2 separate regions of the Homo sapiens genome follow, and region 2 is linked to region 1. A link means that fine-mapping ties the variant in region 1 to the expression of a gene that starts in the linked region. Tissue or cell type: whole blood. Region 1 holds a variant in brackets; the other region holds the start of a gene. All regions are shown on one strand. Distances are from middle to middle.

Region 1 (2,768 bases):
GATTGTAAAATGAAATGAAAAAATAGTAAAATTAATATTTAGTACACTGTACTTTAAAATATCAGAAACACTGAGAATTAAAGTGTCTTATTTCTTTGTTACGCAGCCAAAAGACACATGAAAAAATGCTCATCATCACTGGCCATCAGAGAAATGCAAATCAAAACCACAATGAGATATCATCTCACACCAGTTAGAATGGCAATCATTAAAAAGCCAGGAAACAACAGGTGCTGGAGAGGATGTGGAGAAATAGGAACACCTTTACACTGTTGGTGGGACTGTAAACTAGTTCAACTATTGTGGAAGTCAGTGTGGCAATTCCTCAGGGATCTAGAACTAGAAATACCATTTGACCCAGCCATTGCATTACTGGGTATATACCCAAAGGACTATAAATCATGCTGCTATAAAGACACATGCACACGTATGTTTATTGCGGCATTATTCACAATAGCAAAGACTTGGAACCAACCCAAATGTCCAACAATGATAGACTGGATTAAGAAAATGTGGCACATATACACCATGGAATACTATGCAGCCATAAAAAATGATGAGTTCATGTCCTTTGTAGGGACATGGATGAAATTGGAAATCATCACTCTCAGTAAACTATCGCAAGGACAAAAAACCAAACACCGCATATTCTCACTCACAGATGGGAACTGAACAATGAGAACACATGGACACAGGAAGGGGAACATCACACTCTGGGGACTGTTGTGGGGTGGGGGGAGGGGGGAGGGATAGCATTAGGAGATATACCTAATGCTAAATGACAAGTTAATGGGTGCAGCACACCAGCATGGCACAGGTATACATATGTAACTAACCTGCACATTGTGCACATGTACCCTAAAACTTAAAGTATAATAAAAAAAATTCATTTAATAAAAAAATGTAGTTATAACAAGCAGTATAATTATAACTGACAGTAAGACAGTTTTTAGGGTCTTAAAATTTTTAGCCAGGTTCGGTGGCTCACACCTGTAATCCCAGCATTTTGGTAGGCCGAAGTGGGTGGATCACGAGGTCAGGAGTTCGAGACCAGCCTGGCCAATGTGGTGAAACCCCGTCTCTACTAAAAATACAAAAATTAGCC[G/A]GGCATGGTGGCGTGTGCCTGTAGTCCCAGCTACTCAGGAGGCTGAGGCAGAAGAATTGCTTGAACCCAGGAGGCGGAGGTTGCAGTGAGTCAAGATCAAGCCACTGTACTCCAGCCTGGGCGACAGAGCAAGACTCTGTCTCAAAAAAAAAAAAAAAAAATTTAAAGGTCACAGAAATATCGTAATTGTCCCCCATTGATTATTAAGATAATTTTGTACAGTTTCAGCTTGCAAGGTCATTTTTTTAATCTTACACTTCATACAAAGGAAGGACTACCTATACATAGTTTAATTTTGTTTGCTTCAGTATCTGGCATACTTGGGGAATAGATGTCCAATCTTGCGTTTCTAATGCTTGCTGTCTCTCACCGAGTGTGCTCTGTTCCCGAGGTGTTATATGATTTTGGGTTTAGATTGCTGTTCTTTTTCTAACCTCTTCAACAAATTCTAAGACATCATTATTTTTAGACTTTCTTTTCTAATACATACTCTTAAGATTACAGCTTTCCCTCTAAGAATCGCCTTAGTGGCAACGCCGACGTTATGTTATTTTCTTTATTAATCAGTTGAAAATATTTTCTAACTTCCATTGTGAGTTCTTTGACCTGTGAGTAACATTTAGAGGCATACTGCTTAACTTAGAAAAAGCTGAGGATTTTCTAGTTACCTTTTTATTATTGATTTCTAGCATAATTTTCACTGTCATCAAAGAACATAATCTGAATAATTTCAATCCTTTTATAATCTGAGAGTTGCTTTTTTTTTGAGTTGGTCAATTTCAGAAAACTATCACGTGTACTTAGAGAATGCATATTTTGAAGGTCTTCGGTATTAGTATTCTATATATGTCCCTTAAGAGATTTCTTAATTGCATTATTCAAATATTGCATCTTAACTTACTGTTTTTTTTTCTGGTTGCTATTTTATTTACTGAGAGCAACCTGCTCATATTTCCTATTATAATGGTGCATTTGTCTGTTCTGCCATTCAGTGCTATCACATTTTTGTATTCTGAGTCTTTGTTATTGAGTGCTTACACATTCAGAACTGTCATATCTTTTGGGCAAATATAATTTCGTATCATTATGGAAACCGCCTTTTAATCTGTAATCATCTGTTTCACATTAAATTCTACTATGTCTGATATTACCAGCATGTTTTCAGTTAGCACTTCCATGGTATACATATTTTCTATCCTTTTATTTTCACCCATTCTGTACTCTTGTATTTTACGAATCTCCTTGGTTAAAAGCATGTAATTGTGGGTTCATTTAGTTAATCTCTGGTAAATCACTCTTAAAATTATAGCATGTAGTACAGCAAAATTTAATGCAATTACTAAGGCATCTGGGTTTATATCTACTACCTTAGTATTTCCTATATGTCTTGACTTTAAAAAAACAAAACAAAACACCTCTCTTTTTGTTCCTATTCTTTCTTATTAACTGGAATTAATTACATTTTATTATTCCACTTTCCTGCTCCATGAGCTTGGAAGTGATAGAATCTTTTAGTTTACTGTAGTGCTCAGCCCAGACATCGTAACATGCCTCTGAGAATTGCCACCCTCTACTATAAATTAGTATCCTATTTCTAATGGATAATGTAAGCACCTGAGACTATCTCAACTCCATTTACACTCTTCCTAAATGTACGGTATTG
Region 2 (2,768 bases), 87 kb after region 1:
CACCATCCAGCCCCTTTCTACGCCTTCAACTGCACTTGCCATTTCCCTATATAAATATTCCAATTCAATTTACATCAATATTACACTCAAACCAGCCGTATTGCAAGTCTTTAACAAAGCATATTCCTAATCCCCTCAGTGTCACAAATATTGTTCTATTTGGGATGCCTAGAGTTTTTCATATAGTAAATTCATATTTGTACTGCACGTTTCAGCCCAATAGCACCTTCCTTGAACATATTTTAATAATAATCGTGTAATAGTTAATATTTGTTTAACACAATGTATCAGATACTATTCTAAATCCTTTACATATTTTAATATTCATTTAATCTTTCCAACAACCCTATGAGACTGTGGCAAAAGAGCCAGCAGTTGCTGTCACTTCAATATATTTTGGAATACATTTCCCTCCCCAAATTAAATTCTTGGAGGTAAAAACTGTCCTGTTTATCTTTGCAGCAGCTGTTCTTCCATAGTGTCTGGTACATAATAGAAACAGGAGTTCAATAAACATCTTTTTAATAAATGGCCAGAGAGCTGTGCCCCTAGATTTTAAATGCACACTTGGAAACTCCTGCTGGCCATTAGCCTTCTAATCTTCAGAGCACGAGAGGAGCATAACAAACATGTTTAGCGTCTAGTAGAATTCTGTGTAAGCTACAAGTACTACCACACGGTTCTGCTTAAATATACACACATCCTCACGTATAACATCAAGGTTTTTTTTTTCCTGCAACTAACTTCTTTAACTCTTTACCAATTTAAATGTACCCAACCAGCATTCAAAAAAGATTTGTCGGTCAACGACGACGATATTAAACATTGTATATGAAGTCTCAAAAAAACATGGAGCTTACTTTGCTCTCTCAGAAAGTCGATTTCTGCAGCCATTTCGATACAATTTTAGTTTAGAGCTTTCACCACCTTTACCTTCCTCTGAAAGACAGAGAGCTTGCTGTGCGGGAAAACAAAACTAAGCCAACGCTCGGTTGGTTGTCAAGCGCTCCAGCGGTGCAATCTGCATCCTACTCACGCGGCATCTACAGCCCCGCCACGCTTCTTTCCCCCGCGCCCCAGACGAGTCCCTGGCCCTGGTGAGAGACTGAAGATTGCTGGGGACTCCACGTTCAACCGAATCCCACGCTGGTGGGAAGAGGACGCGGTCGATACAGGCGTCCCGCGGGTCACTCTGGGTCTCGTCGGGCCACCTAGGAGAGTGCCGCGGGAGCTTGACGGCAGCCTGAGAGCGGCGTTCTACGCGGAGCGGCGGGGGTTGGAGAGGACAACGCCAAGACGGCTGGGAAGCCCCAGGCCAGCAGCGGAAGTCCACTCGGCCCGCCCTGCGACTTTGAAACCGGTGCCCCGGACCACTCCTTGGAGACGGTGGCGCCTCTTGCGTCATCACGCGGGCGTTGGAGCTTACGCCATCGCGCGTCCTAGAGTCCTAGCACGCTATTGGCTGGCTGTCAAGCAATGGGAGGAGTCGTGAGAACCTGGATGACAGCGGGCTGAGCCACCGGCTTGGCGCGGCGGCCAAACTGGTGGGACAGTGTCTCCAGGTAGTGAGGCCCAACCTCTTTAAAACAAACAAACAAACAAACAAAAAACCAAAATGCAAACGTGAGTAGAGAATGAAATACACAGTTTAAATGCCCTCACTATCTTTGGGTTACTAATATACTAAGCCTTTCTGGACTAAGTAAAAGATGCAGGTTCCTGCGGCTAGGGATAGAAGCCAGACTGGCGTCTTCAGAATCTCCCACCAAGGCTGTACCTCTGGAGGAGTTCTAGGTTTGGATTTGGTCATCTCAAGAAGGTAAGTACCTTCTCGGTCTTTGTGGGTCTTTAGACAAAGGAGACAACTGTTGTTTAAATATTTAACTGTGTAGTAATAAAGCGTGTAGTTAGAAGTACTCAAAAGATCTTGCAAATTCAGCAGCTACTTCTTCAAAGATAAGCTTGTTTCCTCAAATATAAGGAAAGATAAAAGGTACTTTTTTTTGCAAAAAACAAAACGGTAAAACTTACATTTGTGGATAGATTACAATTTTCATTTTTGAAAATTAATTTTGTCTGGACTTAAAACGTATTTTTTTAAAAAAAATCATTTAACATTAGAGGAAATCTCACCACTAGCAACAAAAATGTTAACTTGAAGCTAGCCACTAGTTTTGTGCTTTTAATAAATTGTATTTTTATGGACTGAAGTAAAGTTTCACTAAACAGGCATGTCATAGATGCAGCTTGATTTGGCTTTCTGTTTAACGGCTTAAGAGTTTTGTTGTCCCGTACTCATAATGTCATATAAACAAAGTAACCTTAGCGATATGTGTTAAGAAATTTTAAAAATGTATTCAAATATATGCAGTTAGGCATCTGAAGGCCTTACTCAATACTCACTGTTAATAGAATGAGATGGTCCCTTCCTCTAAAGACTAGCTGTTAAATATGGATGTGTAGCTTAATAATCATTGAAAAGGTCTAATCCAGCTTTGAGTTGGTGATAATTGAACTTGTTCTGATTTTTAGTAGCTATAACGTTTACACAAAAACTTTTTGTATAAACGTTATAGCTAAGGGAAAATTGAGTGTGCAAGGTCCAACTCGTTTTTGAAGTTCAGTATATGACTCTTTCTTCATAAACATCTCACTGACTCTCCAAGGACTTGCTTGTAACTTCTCCCACATTTGAACCTTGTATATTGTCGTATTTCTACTTGGCATCAAATAAATAATTATAGACTTAACTCTACGCTTACACCCAA

What was found. PIP is the estimated chance that this variant, and not a neighbour inherited with it, causes the effect.
Region 2: SCLT1 starts here. The variant in region 1 is fine-mapped to the expression of SCLT1 in whole blood (TOPMed, PIP 0.90).

The regions. Positions count from the first base shown.
Region 1 is chr4:129,005,290-129,008,057 of GRCh38, forward strand. All of the region lies in intron 5 of SCLT1 (sodium channel and clathrin linker 1), which reads right to left. Among named protein-coding and RNA genes, the nearest start is that of SCLT1, 87 kb to the right of the region's middle. The variant G/A (reference allele first, on the strand shown) is at 1,106.
Region 2 is chr4:129,092,210-129,094,977 of GRCh38, forward strand. SCLT1 (sodium channel and clathrin linker 1) reads right to left here and starts at 1,330. Exons shown (of 21, transcript NM_144643.4): 1 at 861-1,330. The coding sequence starts at 894. It also overlaps a transcript of C4orf33 not described here. RefSeq lists an enhancer at 1,025-1,594.